Linked DNA regions of Homo sapiens: region 1 is linked to region 2. The links come from fine-mapping of genetic effects on gene expression. Tissue or cell type: T cells. Region 2 holds a variant in brackets; the other region holds the start of a gene. All regions are shown on one strand. Distances are from middle to middle.

What was found. PIP is the estimated chance that this variant, and not a neighbour inherited with it, causes the effect.
Region 1: KLHDC4 starts here. The variant in region 2 is fine-mapped to the expression of KLHDC4 in T cells (TOPMed, PIP 0.97).

Annotation. Positions count from the first base shown.
Region 1 is chr16:87,761,293-87,769,408 of GRCh38, forward strand. It overlaps KLHDC4 (kelch domain containing 4), which reads right to left and starts at 4,694. Exons shown (of 12, transcript NM_017566.4): 1 at 4,500-4,694; 2 at 657-748. The coding sequence starts at 4,598. It overlaps LOC105371399 (a long non-coding RNA gene), which reads left to right and starts at 4,749. Exons shown (of 3, transcript XR_933871.3): 1 at 4,749-5,049. It overlaps LOC102724467 (a long non-coding RNA gene), which reads right to left. Exons shown (of 4, transcript NR_120309.1): 4 at 5,039-5,132. RefSeq lists enhancers at 1,080-1,149, 3,982-4,606, 4,590-4,649, 4,730-4,789.
Region 2 is chr16:87,791,294-87,799,409 of GRCh38, forward strand. No RefSeq gene overlaps it. Among named protein-coding and RNA genes, the nearest start is that of KLHDC4, 29 kb to the left of the region's middle. The variant C/T (reference allele first, on the strand shown) is at 3,218.

The DNA of each region.
Region 1 (8,116 bases), 30 kb before region 2:
ATGCGCCTCATTAATGCAAACGCAGCACAATCGTGACCCTCCACTCCCGATGGGCTGAACCCCGGCTTCCACTAGGGCCTGCAGCAGCTTTATTAAAAGGGTAAATCCTGCAAGGTTAATCTCCTACTGAGGGAAATAAACCATTTCTCATTCCAGCTCATCCCACACGTGTATGAAATCCTACAGACTCGGAACGTTTTTACGTAATTTTCAAATCCATTTAAAATGGCTTATACTCAATTTATGTTTAACAAACTTTTCACATGAGAATTTGAAAGCATTACAAACACATCAAAAGGCCACAGTGATTTTCAGCTTTCTGCCTACAGTACGCACTTTTAAAATACCTTAAGAACCAAAGAAAAGCTCACTGGGGCAAAACTTTCATCCCCACGTCACGACCAGTGGAGGAGCTTTCAAAGTTGGCACCGGAGCCCAGAGGCAGCAGCTGTGCTGTAGGCCCTGCTCCCAGGTTCCATGACAGTAAAGCTTACAGCCTCATTCCAGTTCTTCAGCAGAAAGTGACCAAGAACAGGTTTTAATAATGAAAATGTCCCAAGTGCCTGGTCATTTACGAAACCTGGTGCTATTTAAAGCAGTTTTTCAATGTATAGAAGAAAAGGAAACATACAATATGAAAAATGCTACTTGCTCACCTTGGTGAGGGTGGGGGGCACGGAAGTTCCACAGTCTGAGTCCTCTTGGCATCGAGTGTCTGGAAATGGGCTATGAGCGCTTCCAGGTCTTCCTAGGGCAAGCAAGCAGGCACACGTGAGACTTATTCCCAGGACCCGCCGCGGAGCCACAGCCCGCTCAGCTTTCCTCCAATCAGTGTGATTCGACTGGGCTCAGTCACATCTGTGAATTGCAACATACTGTGCCTGTTTGAAATGCAGAGTTTGACACATTCGAAAGTAACCAGAGCTTGACCTCAAAGGCAGTCTGCTTAAAGGGTAGATGTGTGCACCAAGTATTATCTCCACACCCTTAACGCTCCCTCTGCAAGACCTTCCACTTAGACAAGCCCGTTGTGACTTCACTGCAGACACTCTCAGCACCTCTCATAACCCAGACTCGAGCCGTCGCACCTGCCAGCCTTCCTGTCTGCAGAGCAGTGTCTGACAAGAACTTCCACTTAGACAAGCCCATCGTGACTTCACTGCAGACACCCTCAGCACCTCTCAGAGCCCAGGCCTGGGCCGTCACGCCTGCCTGCCTTCCTGTCTGCTGAGCAGTGTCTGATATATTTCTCTTGCTTATTTGTTTCCTCCACCCCAACAAAATAATAAAATATGAGCTCCACCAGAGCAAGACTTGTGTCTAGTTAAAACACTGCCTGCACAGCAAGAGCTCAGCAAATACCAGCTGCAGTCTATCCAAGTAAGAAGGTCTCAACTTTTACTACCATCGAGAGTGACTCAAGGTACTGATGTGCCAGCACAGAGGGCAGCACTGGAACCCAGTGTTCCCGCCTCAGTCCCAGTGCCCATTTCCCAACATTTACGAGACACTCCCATGCACACCCGAGCCTGGCATTTCAAGTTCCTTCTAGCCTTCAGTGTCCTGCTTGCAACTACACACACCTGCAGACCATCTTCCCTCCCCCACACCCACCTCTCCAACCTCACCTCCCACCTGGCCTCACTCTCCAAGATACACCAGCGTCCTCTCCGTTCCTTCAATGAAAACGCCAGGTTCCCTCAGCCTGCCACGCCCCACCTCGTGCTTCCTTCAGTCTACCTCTCATCTCAGGGTGAATGTCAGCAGGGTACACTGCTTAGTATTCTAAACGATGCAATATTTAAAACACACAAGTTAACAGAACTTTATCCAAGACATTCCTGTATACGGTTCCCAGGGTAAGGAATAAAGTGTCACCCACATGTACCCACCCACACATTCCCTCAAGTAACCACTATCTGGAACTCGATGCTTATTAGTCTCACGCTTTTCTTCAATCTTTTATTACACATGTGTATCCCTAAGCAACATATAGTATTGTTTTACATTTTTAAATGTCATTAAATGGACTGGGCACAGTGGCTCACGCCTGTAATCCCCGAACTTTGGGAGGCCGAGGCAGGTGGATAATTTGAGGTCAGGAGTTCGAGACCAGCCTGACCAACACGGTGAAACCCCGTCTCTACTAAAAAATACAAAAATTAGCCGGCCACAGTGGCGCACACCTGTAGTCCCAAACTACTCGGGAGGCTGAGGCAGGAGAATTGCTTGAGCCTGGGAGGCAGAGGTTGCAATGAGCTGAGATCATGCCACTGCGACACTTGCTCTGGGTGACAGAGCAGGACTCCATCTCAAAAAAAATAAAAAATAAAATGTCATTAAATGGTATCATACTGTATATTCTTTCAACTTGCTTTTTTTGCTCAACGAGGTTAAACAAACAGTTCAAATACTAACGTCTATGTACCGCGAAAGCTTTGCTGCTGCTACTTAGAGCGGTCTTTGACCTTGGCTGAACCTCATCATCATTGGGTGACTGAAGGAGAGCAAGGTGGTAGGGTCTGGGTGACGCCAGTGGCCTAGCCAGTGACAGCCTCTCCAAAGTGACAATAAGCTGAATGCTGAAAAGACGACTCAGACGGAGTATGGTTGGGGTATAGGTAAGACCACAGACACAACTTGCCATGTTTGAGACACTAAAAGACACTGTGGCTGGAGTGAGCCCAGGGAGACAGCTGGAAAGACAGGCAGAGGCCAGGACTAAGTGAAGGTGCGAACCAGGTGACCTGATACATGAGTTCTGTGGGAGCAGAATTCCAAACTGTCCCCAATCCTTCCCCCAATAATTGCCAGGACTGTGAAAGAATGGGATACCACTCTTGTGATTAGGTTGTATTACAGACACAGCTGAATTTAAGAAAGAGATGATCCTCTGTGGGTCTAGCCTAATCAGACGCCCACTTATTTTAAAAGTTTGTTTTGAGGGTTCATTCAGATAACATACAAACCCCAGGCCTGACAGGCTCTCTCTCTTAAGGGAAGCTACTGTTACAATCACCTTAGTATTGGGTACTGGAGGGAGACATGGAGATGAGTAAAAATGACAGGTAACTGGCGGGGCAAGGTGGCTTACGGCTTGTAATCCCAGCACTTTGGGAGGCCGAGGCGAGCGCATCACCTGAGGTCAGGAGTCCCAGACCAGCCTGACCAAAACGGTGAAACCCGGTCTCTATTAAAAATACAAAATTAGCTGGGTGTGGTGGTGCATGCCTGTAATCTCAGCTACTTGGGAGGCTGAGGCAGGAGAACCACTTGAACCTGGGAGGCGGAGGTGCAGTGAGCTGAGATCGCACCATTGCACTCCACCCTGGGCAACAAGAGTGAAACTCCTTCAAAAAAAAAAAAAAAAAAAAAAAAAAAAAGCAGAAAGCAGCTAACAGCTGGTTACTGAGTGCTTACTTTCTGCCAAGCACCATTCTGAAGATACCACACAGATGAACTGACTTCCTGTGCCACAACCCTAGCCAGCAGGTCATGCCACTGCAGCCCAGCCTAGGTGACAGAGCAAGACTCTGTCAAAAAAAAAAAAAAAAAAAAGAAAGAGCCTAAGAGGAGTGTGAGGGAAAAGTCCAACTCCATTATTTAAGAGATGAGGACATGGAGAGATCAATGACTTAGGAAGAAAAGGGACAAAGGACTGTGGTCAAGAGCTCCTGATTCAGGACATCTGGTCACATCCCAGTTCCATACCACTTCATGGTTCACCTGTTGGTCTTCCTGTCAAATGGGAATACCAGTGCTACGGAACTGACCTGCTCGTGAGGAGTAAAGCCCAGGGAGCTGTGCCTGGCGCACGGCAGGCCATAAAACTGGCCCCGGTTAGGGAATCCATGAGCAGCAGCCGCAGAACACTCAACCCCAAGGTCAGGACGGATCCTCCTGCAGACCCCGGGCTGAGGACCAGAGGGAAGGAGACAACCGTGATGGCCGCCATCAGCTGCTACGGGATACCCCGTGGCTCCAGTGCCTTCTTCACTTAACCATCTGCTGCTCACTGCTCAGGGCTGCTGTGATGATTATTTGCCCTCTTTTGAAAGAAAAGTAAGGTTCAGAAAAGTTAAGAGTCTTACTCCCAGACCACACATCATGCAGAGGCAGCCCCCGGCTCAACCTCAGGTCTTCCTGTGCCAAACCCCTCCCTCTTCTCACCACCCAGCCTCCCTTCAGAGGGAGGGTGGAGGGAGAAGGGAGGAGGGGGAGGAAACGCAGAAAAACGCCCGTGACACCACACTAAGAAAAGCAAGCACGTTAAAGGGGGCAGCTCCGAGAAGCGGACAGACACACGTGGAGACTCAGGAGGGGGCGGGCCCCGTCTGGGCTGCCCGGACGCGGCGCCGGGGCAGTTCCTACGGCCTCCAGCTCTCCCGCAGGGCCGGCGCGGCTCCCACGGCCGACCCGTAACCCCGGGGGGCGCAGGGAGTCGGCCGAGGCTGCACGGCCGCGACGTCGGGCCGCTAAGCCCGGTCTGACCCGCTCACCTCCTCCTTCCGCGAGCGCTTAGACACCTTCTTCTCCATCTTGGCGGCCGTCTTCTCCGCGCCGCGGCCCTTCTTCTCCTTCTTGCCCTTCTTGCCCATCTTGCCGGGTCCCAAGCCGCGACGGGACACCAGGAAAGAAAACGGCCCGCGCTCTCCGCTCGGAAACAGGTGCTCGTGGGGCGGAGCTCGGCGCACAGAAATGGAGTCACTTCCGGCCCCGAGTTCGAGCCGCTTCCGGGTAGAGGTGCGGCTGGGCCCTTTACGAGGTTCGGTCTTGGAGCTCCGTCTTCGGCAGCGGGCTCGGGGGCCTCGGACTCTGCATAAGGCCCCGGAAAAGATGACCGGCCCCGGGCTGGGCGCGGTGGCTCATGCCTGTAACCCTGGAGCTTTGGGAGGCCTTGGCGGGCGGATCGCTTGAGTCCAGGAGTTCGAGATCAGCCTGGGCAACAAAGCGAGACACCACCCCCCACCCCCAGTCGCTACAGAAGAAAAAAAAAAAAATTAACCGGGCGTGGTGTCTCGCGCCCAGTGGTCCTAGCTCCTCGGGAAGGTGAGGCGGGAAGATCGCTTGAGTCAAGGAGTTCCAGGCAGCAATGCGCCCCTGCACCCCAACCTGGGCGACAGAGCGAGATCCTGTTTCAAAAAACAAAAAAGATGGCAGCCCCGGCCTGACATACCCCGGCCATGCTCGCCAATTCTCACGCCCTGTGCCCCCACCTAGCCTGTCCCCGTGTCCTAGGAGACGTGCCCTCTGAGTTTTATTTTTTATTTCTATTTTTTTGAGGCAGGGTCTTGCTCTGTCGCCCAGGCTGGAGTGCGGTAGCGCGATCTCGGCTCGCTGTAACCTCCGCCTCTGGAGTAGCTGGGACCACAGGAGCCCACCACGCCCGGCTCATTTTCTCTTGAGTTTTCCGGGGTGCACGTGCCCCCCGTTAAGGCACATTGCTTCGCCCTGGGTAGAACTAAGTGGGCGACTCTTGGGCTAGCCCCATTTTTTCCCCTCAGACCAAACAAATGAGTGCTTTTTTCCCAGAAAAAAAATTTCACACAGTTATAAGATTTTGCAGATCCTGAGTAAGACAGTCCCTGCCGGGCGCGGTGGCTCACGCCTGTAATCCCAGCACTTTGGGAGGCCGAGGTGAGTGGATCACGAGGTCAGGAGTTCGAGACCAGCCTAGCCAACATGGTGAAACCCCCGTCTCTACTAAAACTACAAAAATTAGCCAGGCGTGGTGGTGGGCACCTGTAATCCCAGCTACTTGGGAGGCTGAGGCAGGAGAATTGCTTGAACCCAGGGGGCAGAGGTTGCAATGAGCTGAGATCAAGCCACTTCACTCCAGCTTGGGCAAAAGAGCAAAATTCCATCTTAAAAAAAAAAAAAAATGGGGGGGCCCTTCCACCTTCCCATTTAAAATGTGCCAGACACTGTTAGGTACTAAGGGCATGTCCTCAAATGTCCTAACATGGAGGACTTTTGTTTCTTCATAGGTAGGCTAGAGCTAATGATAGCACCCTGAAAGGGTACTCAATTTGTGGAGCCTGAGAAATAAAGATAGGTAATATCCAAATGCCTGCTAGGAAATTGTACTCTAGGATTTGCCTCAAATTACGTAAGAAATGGCAAAATCATCTGCAGTGCATGGAATGTTATGATTTGAAAGAGCAGAGTAAAAATGCTTATCACTACTTAGAAGATGTCATCTTTGGATGGGTAATCAAGGAATAAGGCAAATTAAGGACAAGGACAAGCCAAAATTTGGCAAAGGGAAAGCATAAATCAGGAAATAATCTAGTTTATTACTTTGTGTGTGAGTCAGCCTTTAAAAGTTCTCTTAGGCCAGGCGTGGTGGTTCATTCCTGTAATCCCAGCACTTTGGGAGGCTGAAGCGGGCTGATCACGAGGTCAGGAGTTCAAGACCAGCCTGGCCAATATGGTGAAACCCTGTCTCCACTAAAAATACAAAAAAAAAAAAAAAAATTAGCCAGGTGTGGTGGCACCCACCTGTAGTCCCAACTATTCAGGAGGCTGAGGCAAAAGAATCATTTGAACCTAGGCGGCAGAGGTTGCAGTGAGCGGAGATTGCACCACTGCACTCCAGCCTGGGCGACAAAGCAAGACTCCATCTCAAAAAAAAAAAAAAAAAAAGATGTTATCTTAGATCCAGCCAGGTGTGATGGCTCACGCCTGTAATCCTAGCACTTTGAGAGGCAGAGGCAGGCAGATCACCTGAGGTCAGGAGTTTGAGACCAGCCTGATCAACATGGTGAAACCCCATCTCCACTAAAAATACAAAATTAGACAGGCATGGTGGTGCGCACCTGTAATCCCAGCTACTCGGGAGGCTGAGTCAGGAGAATGGCTTGAGCCTGGGAGACAGAGGTTGCAGTGAGCCGAGACTGAACCACTGCACTCCAGCCTGGGCAACAGAGCTAGACTCCGTCTCAAAAAAAAAAAAAAAAAGAAGAAGTTAACTCGGCCAGGCGTAGTGGCTCACATCTGTAATCCCAGCACTTTGGGAGGCCAAGGTGGGCAGATCACGAGGTCAGGAGTTCAAAACCAGCCTGGCCAACATGGTGAAACCCCGTCTCTACAAAAATACAAAAAAATTAGCCAGGTGTGGTGGTGTGCACCTTTAATCCCAGCTACTCAGGAGGCTGAGGTAGGAGAATTGCTTGAACCGGGAGGAAAGGTTGCGGTGAGCCCAGATCACGCCATTGCACTCCAGCCTGGGCAGCAAAAGCGAAACTCTGTCTCAAAAACAAAAAAAGTTACCTTAGATCCAATCAATGACTAGTCACTGAGCAGCTGAGGAGGAATGATTTTCCAACCCACTCCAAGCCTTATCCATAAACCTAGCTCTTTAAGAAGAAAAATGAAATTTGGGGAAATAATGAGAAGAAAAGATAGCACTGGTTGAAGACCACCATGGTCTCCAGCACTGCTTGTAGGAAACCTATGTGGTGGTAGAAAAAAAAAACCGGTTAGGAGCTGAGCAGAAAGGAGCTGGAGAATTTCACAGAAACCCAGCCTGGGCATCCAGGCATGTTTATCTTCCATGACGAACTACAAAAGGCTAAATCCTCACTATTGCCCTCGGGAAATAGTTCTGTCCCCTCTAGTGTACTATGACTTTAAGAACATACGTAATCCTTTAATATTTTTCTAAAAATCCTGGGTAAACCTGAGGCAATGCACTTGAAGCCAAAAGGCTCTTCATTCACAGCACATCTGGCTGCAGTACATTACAGTGGTGCCCACTTCAGGCCGGAGACAGGGAGAGCGTATGACCTATTGAAGATTTAGGAGGATCTGGTGGATGCGGGGTTTAATACTTTTATTATCTGAAAGAAGCTTGAAGCTAAATTAGAAGGCTCTTGGATTATAGGTGTCATGGTGATTTACGTGAGACTGAAATTCTCATACTGAGAAAGACGGAATAGAACATCTAAAATGAGATCAGATCCTAAAATAGTCAAAAGATTAAGTACAAGGCTCTATTTTAGTAAAATTCACATTGTTGAAACTTTCATGGATTATCTTTAATCTGTCGCTGACTTTTAGAGTGTATCTTTTGTGTGATCAGGCGCCCTCTGCTGCCTTCAAGTTGAAGTGCAGA
Region 2 (8,116 bases):
GGAGAAGATCCAGCCAGGGAGCTGGGCACAACTCCCCGTTTCACTGTGCGGTTTCATTTCAGTTGGAAAGAACTTCATCTGTTGAAGTGCACAGACAGCATTCAGAGGCTAGAGACGCCGGCATCGGCACAGCACACAGTGCCCTCTGTTCCCCTGGCCCAGGCCAAGAGCTCTTTGTGTGTCTGAGTGACTGGTCAGCACTGGGCAACAAACCCACGCCGGGAGACGGACAGCGAGCCGCCTCAACCCACCAGCCTCTGGGGAGCCTCTCATCTCGCAAGCACCTGCGGAGGCCCGCCCGGCGCCAGACCAGTCCAGGCACCCAGAGGCCTCTGCTCTCCTGGAGCTCATGACAAGTAAACAAATACACAAGATGGTTTGGGATCCCGATGAATAAGTTAAGCAGGGCAACCCAACAGGGAGGACAGGGCTCCCGCATGTGACGGACCCAGGAGGGAGCGACCCCCCGTGTTGACATGGGGGGAAAGGCGGGAAGTCAGAGAGGCCGGGAGGTCAGAGAGGCCAGGAGGTCAGAGAGGCCAGGCCCCTTCACACGGGGTGGGCGGGGGGGGGGGGGATTTGCTCCCTCTGGAGGCCAAAGAGGAGGGTCCTTTCCACCTCTTCCAGCTTCTGGGGGCGGCTGGCTTCCTGGGCTTGTGGCGTGTCTGTCACTCCAGTCTCTGCCTCTGCCTTCACGTGGCCTCAGTGCATGTCCTCACATGGCCTTCTTATAAAGATACCTGTCATCGCATTTAGGACCCACCCTAATCCAGCACGACCTCATCTTAACTAATGGCACATGCAAAGACCCTGATTCCAAATCCGGTTATGTTCTGGGGATCCGGTGAACACAAATTTCGGTGCTTTGCTCAGTTTCTATGGAGTCTTGTGTATAGGAAGGGACAGGAGAAGAACCAAATTCTCATCTGAGGCAGATTTTTATTCCTCATTGCAAAATTTAAACATGAAACCAATTAAAACCTTTTTGGGGAGGCCTCTGCTCAATCAGTCAACCAAGGACTATTTACCAAGCAGCTGGTCTTGGGCTCAGCTCTGCAGTCAGCACTGTGGTACCTGACACGGATTGGCAGCTTGCTCTCAGAACATTTCCAGGCTAACCAAGAGGACGAGCACAACGAGCTATTTTTCAAGGAATAGATCAGTTAAGATATAACCCACCTACCGTACGATTTGCCCATTTAGAGTGCGCAATTCAGTGGCCGTTAGTACAATGACAGAGTTATGCAGCTATTACCCCAATCAATATTAAAACATTCTCTTTTCTTTTTTTTTTTTTTTCAGATGGAGTCTCACTCTGTCGCCCAGGCTGGAGTACAGTGACACGATCTCAGCTCACTGCAACCTCTGCCTCCTGGGTTCAAGTGATTCTCCTGCCTCAGCCTCCTGAGTAGCTGGGATTACAGGTGCGTGCCATCACGCCCGGCTAATTTTTGTATTTTTAGTAGAGACAGGGTTTCACCATGTTGGGCAGGCTGGTCTCAAACTCCAGACTTCGGGTGATCCGCCTGCCTAGGCCTCCCAATGCTGGGATTACGGGCGTGAGCCACCACGCCCGGCCAAACGTTTTCTTTTTACTTTTTTTTTTTTTTTTTTTTAGGACAGGGTCTGGCTTTTTTTTTTTGAGATGCAGCCACAAGGCCAGGCTGGAGTGCAGCGGTGCAATCTTGGCTCACTGAAACCTCTGCCTCCCGGGCTCAGGTGATCCTCCCACCTCAGCCTCCTGAGTAGCTCAGGCCACAGACACATGCCACCGTGCACAGCTGATTTTATTATTATTTATGTATTTATTTATTTAATTGAGATGGGGGTCTTGCTATGTTGCCCAGGCTGGTCTTGAACTCCTGAGCTCAAGCAATCCACCCGCCTCAGCCTCCCAAAGTGCTGGGATGACAGGCGTGAGCCATGTCACCTGCCCCAGTTAACTTTTGTGTATATTTGGTAGAGATGAGGTTTTACCATGGTGCCTACACTGGTCTTGGGCTGAGCTCAAGCAATCCACCCACCTCGGCTTCCCAAAGTACAGAGGTGAGGCACCATGCCCAGCATAACTTTTCCTTTTTTAATTTATTGAAAATACATAGGACTGTATAAAGCCAAAATTACCACATCACCCTGGGGTTTGTAATGTATGTAGGTGCAATATGCAAGACAACAGCAGCATGAAGCATGGGGGGTTGGGTAAATATGGTCACAAGGCTTCTATGTTTTATGTGACGTTTATATTTCTAATACTAACTCTGGGCTGGGCGCGGTGGCTCACGCCTGTAATCCCAGCACTTTGGGAGGTGGATCACCTGGGGTCGAGAGTTCGAGACCAACCTGACCAACATGGAGAAACCCCGTCTCTACTAAAAATACAAAATTAGCCAGGTACGGTGGTAGATGCCTGTAATCCCAGCTATTTGGGAAGCTGAGGCAGGAGGATCGCTTGAACCCAGGAGGTGGAGATTGTGATGAGCCGAGATCGCGCCACTGCACTCCAGCCTGGGCAACAAGAGCGAGACTCCATCTCAAACAAACAAAAAACAAAACAAAACAAAACAAAACACTCTGAGTAGACTGTGAAAAACTAAGGGTAGATGTTGCAATCCCTAGAGCAAGGAGAAGGAATAGCTAAAAAGCCATAGTTCTTGCTTCATAATGCTAATACTTGGGGTGGGCATGGTGACTCATGCCTGTAATCCCGGCATTTTGAGAGGCCGAGGCAGGTGGATGACTTGAGTTCAGGAATTTGAGACCAGCCGGGCATGGTGGCGCATGCTTGTAATCCCAGCTACTCAGGAGGCTGAGACAGAAGAATCGTTTGAACCTGGGAGGCGGAGGTTGCCGTGAGCTGAGATTGTGAATTGCACTCCAGCCTGGGCAACAGAGCAAGACTCCGTCTCAAAAAAAAAAAAAAGCTAATACTCAGAATAGAAATTCCAACTTGACCACTTAGTGGTGTGATCAGAGGCGGGTCTCTCAGCCTCTCTGAACTTCATCTGTCCTGGGAATTGAACAATCTAAGCTGTTTATCCCCCAGGGTGTCCCAGAGGATGAAATGAGGCAATATCAACTGTGCACTGTGTTTTGTAACCTGAGAAGCATTGTTAGCCTGCAAAGGGTCCCTTCCATTTGACAGGATTCTCCTGTACCAGAGATGATGGTTTCCTCCCTATCCCCCAAGAAAACAGAGACTATCTCTGATTTCAGCAAA[C/T]AGCTGTGTCAAGGCCTCACATCCTTGGCATGCAGGCATGTCTCAGTCATTGGTGAGGACCTCTGATCCCACCTTCAGGTTCACGATCAAAGGGACTGTTCCCATTTCCTTGGGCAAGAAACCAGAGGCCCGGGACTTTGTACAATTTCCGAAGCAAATGTTATGCACACATACGCCTTCCCCAGCCCACAGGAGATACGCATTTCCGGAAGCTTTTGGTGATCGTGATCACACGTAGGCAGTTTCCAAAGCGTGAGGGGACCTGGTGGTGCAGGTGAGGTGGCCCGTCCCAGGTCCTACAAGGTCCTCTGGCACAGCTGGGATCCCTGCTAACTCGGCGGAAGGGCTCTCTGCTCACCCTGCCACCTCGGTGCCCTGTGGACCCTGATCAGCGGTCTGAAGCCAACTGCCCTGGCATGACCTCCCTGTGGGGTTCCCTTCCCAGCCTGAACCCTTTGGGGTTCCACTGCTCACCAGGGGTGATGCTTCAGAAATCATACTAAACAGCACCTGCTTCAGAGGTCTAACCTACCCCTGGCCCAGCCCAGGTAGGAGTTCCCCAGTCTTCATGAGCTTGGGAGGGGTGGTCAGACACCAGGAGACTGTTGCCATTCCCTGCAGTGACACTCCAGAAACCAGGCAGCCGACGGTCCCAGAGGGGCGAGTCTAAAGGGAGGCACTGCCAGGTGGGGTATCCCAGGCTGCAGGACACCCACGGAGAGGCTGAGGGTTCCGGCCAGAGAAAGGAATAGAGCAGAGCCCTCTGATTGCTCCTTCCTACAAAGTCTAGGTGGACGTCCTCAACAGCAGGTCGCTTTGCTGAGGGGACTGTCTTCAAGGGGAAGCAGCCAGAGAAATCTACCACGACCTAAACCAGCCCTCACACTTAGTCTTCGGCACATGCCAAAGGTGTTCCCTGCGTTAGTCTCCACTGCTGCCGCGCTTCCCTCCCAGCAAGCTCAAGAAAAGCCTGGCCCTGTGTGTATCAACCGCATGGTCCCCCTTTGATCTCTCTGGCCCAGCTGCCGGGCCCTGGCTCGCCACTGGGGAGGCCCTCAGTCCTCTCGCATTGATCCTTCCAGTGAGGCCACGGGAAAGCCTTTGGCACTGGGTGCTGTAGGGCACATGAGCTGGGGTCAGAGCCTTGGACCACCAACTGCAAGGGGTGCTGTGGAGGGCTCTCTGGAGACCCCCACAGCACTGAGGCTCTCGTCCCCCGACCAGGAGTTTCTCCACAAATTGTTCTCCAGGAACTGCCCTTGGCTAAAGCAATGTCACGTCCCAGGCCATGGTCCCTCCCTGGTGGCCCATGTGGAATCACTCGTCAGTGTCATATGAGAAGAATTGTATGCTCAGACCCTGTAACCCAAGGCAGCTGCCTGCTTGCCAGTGTTGTCTCAGAGCCTGTTTGTTGCAGCAACAAAAAGCACAGGCATCTCGGGGGCTTGAAAACTCAGGCTTCTTTCTCGTGTACATCAAGTCCGCTGGGGGTCCAGGAGGTTCCCCAGGGTAGCTGCTGCCAGGGGAGGGCCCACACATGACCCACGCCAACCCCTGCTTGCCCAGCCATCATGCAGAGGACAGAGGAAGGCGAACCCCAGCAAATAAGGGCTTCCACCAAGAAGCGACACCCATTGCCTCCACTCTGAGCCCACTGGCCTTCCCGAAGTCTAAGACTAGAATTCCTGCCTGTGCATAAAGAACTGGGGATTGGTGAACCGCCATCAGATCTGCCAGATGTTTCAGGAAAGTGAACATTTGTTTACATCTGTGTGGATTGGGCTACCTCCTTCTAGACAGAGCCCGGTCCCCTCAGCCTCACTGCCCTCTTTTTATTTTATTTTATTTTTTTGAGACGGAGTTTCACTCTTTTTTTTTTTTTTTTTTTTTTTGAGACGGAGTCTCGCTCTATCACCCAGGCTGGAGTACAGTAGCACGATCTTCGCTCACTGCAAGCTCCGCCTCCCGGGTTCACACCGTTCTCCTGCCTCAGCCTCCCGAGTAGCTGTGACTACAGGTGCCCGCCACCCTGCCTGGCTAATTTTTCGTATTTTTAGTACAGACGGGGTATCATCGTGTTAGCCAGGATGGTCCCGATCTCCTGACCTCGTGATCCACCTGCCTCAGCCTCCCAAAGTGCTGGGATTACAGGTGTGAGCCACCGCGCCCGGCTGAGATGGAGTTTCACTCTTCTCACCCAGGCTGGAGTGCAATGGCACAATCTCTGCTCACTGCAACCTCCACCTCGCAGGTTCAAGCGATTCTCCTGCCTCAGCCTCCTAAGTAGCTGGGTTTGCAGGCACCCGCCACCCACGCCAGGCTAATTTTTGTATTTTTAGTAGACATGGGGTTTCACCATATTATTGCTCTTTTTATAACAGATATTTTGAATGCCTCCTTTCTACCCTGAAATGAAATCCACAGAAACTATAACTTGCCAATACACGGAATTTAAAAAAATCTACACGATACATATTGGATCATACAAGCATGAGAGATAAACTGAAGCAGAAAGGAAGTATGAAAATAAAAACAATTGGCAATAAAGCAATATGAATTTCAAGATGTAAATTCTCAGGCACCGCTATGCTAGAAGACATAAAACACGAATGCTGTACTCACATGTAAATTTGCTGTCAACGCAGCAGGGACAAATGTCAGCAGCATCAGGAGCACTGTGGCTCAAATGCCAGGAGGGGATTTACTAAAATTGTGAGCCTCTCCTGGTTCCAGTTAGAACCCAGCACCTTCATCTGCATGGTAGTTTCATCTCTACAGATTTCAGAACTTATCAAAACTGGCCAAAGTGGCTGAGCGTGGTGGCTCATGCCTGTAATCCCAGCACTTTGGGAGGCCAAGACGGGTGGATCACTTGAGGTCAGGAGTTCAAGACCAGTCTGGCCAACGTGGTGAAACCCCGTCTTTACTAAAAATACAAAAATTAGCTGGGCGTGGTGGCAGGTGCCTGGAATCCCAGTGACTCAGGAGGCTGAGGCAGGAGAATCACTTGAACCAGGGAGGCGGAGGTTGCAGTGAGCCAAGATCATGCCACTGCACTCCAGCCTGGGCGACACAGGGAGACTCTGCCTCAAAAAAAAAAAACAAAAAAAAAAAACTGGACAGACCCACTTTGTGTTGATTGGCAAAAAATAATAACAATGTTAGGTTTTAGGATCAGATAGTTATAAATAGGTTTTTCACCTTTGAAAACTCATACAGGACAATCCTTCATTGTTTAGGACCTTTTTTCACATCACAGAACATTTAGCCTCCTTTCTCTTACTCCACATCCTAAGAAGGCTGCAAACACCTCCCACAAACTTCCAAAATGCCTCCTAGGGAGGGTACCACATCCAATAAGAAAACCTCTATAGGCTGGGTGCACTGGCTCATGCCTGTAATCCCAGCACTTTGGGAGGCCGAGGTGGGTAGATCGTTCGAGCCCAGGAGTTTGAGACCAGCCTGAGCAACATGGTGAAACCTCATCTCTACAAAAAAAAATACAAAACTTAGCCGGGTGTGTTGGTGCACACTTGTGATCCCAACTACTTGAGAGGCTGAGGTGGGAGGATCACCTGAGCCGGGGAGTTCAAGCCTGAAGTGAGCCATGATCACACCACTGCACTCCAGCCTGGATGACAAAGCAAGACCCTGCCTCAATCAATCAATCAATCAATCAATCAATACTTTTTAAAAAAGAAAGAAAACCTCCATCCAAGATGGTATTAGCTGTAGTGTTTTCTAGGCCACCAAAGAAGTGGAAAACATAGAAGGACTTGAGGAGTAGCGTTAGTGACACATTTCAGTGCTAGAGATTCTATACAATAAAGATAAGTGAAAGGCTGGGCACGGTGGCTCACGCCTGTAATCCCAGCACTCCAGGAGGCCGGGCATGGTGGCTCACGCCTGTAATCCCAGCACTTTGAGAGGCCAAGGGGGGGCGGATCACTTGAGGTCAGGATTACGAGACCAGCCTGTCCAACATGGTGAAACCCCATCTCTACTAAAAAAAATATATATATATATAAAATATATATATAAAATATATATAAATATATATAATATATAAATATATATAAAATATATAAATATATATAATATATATATAAATATATATATTTATATATTATATATAAATATATATAATATATAAAAATATATATAATATATAAATATACATAATATATAAATATATATAATATATAAATATACATAATATATAAATATATATATTATATATAAATATATATAATATATAAATATATATAATATATATAATATATAAAATATATATAAATATATATAAAATATATATATGTATATATATATATATATATATATATATATATATATATATATAGCCAGGCGTGGTGGTATGCACCTGTAATCCCAACTACTGGGGAGGCTGAGGCAGGAGAATCACTTGACCCTGGGAGGTGGAGGTTGCAGTGAGCCGCGATTGCACCACTGCACTCCAGCCTGGGCAACAGAGCAAGACTCCATCTCAAAAAAAAAGATAAATGAGATAAAATTGTATTGATGGAGGAGCAAGACTTGGGAATGAGACCCCAGAGGGCATAGAAAAGCCTATTTGGGAATTAGAAATAGAGGAATCCCAAGGACATATTGTTTGCTTCTCTGTAGTGGTTGAATAGTGACACCCTCCCCCACCAACGAGTATGTTCAAGTCCTAATCCCTGGCACCTGTGGATGTGAACTTATTTGGAAATATCTTCTTTGCAGATGCAATTAAGGATCTCAGGATGAGATCATTCTTGATTGAAGGTAGAGGCTAAATCCAATGGGTGGTATCCTTATAAAATAAAAGAGAGGGGGGTTTGAAACACAGAGAGACAGAGAAGAAGACCATGAGAAGATGAGGCAGAGATTGCAGTGACA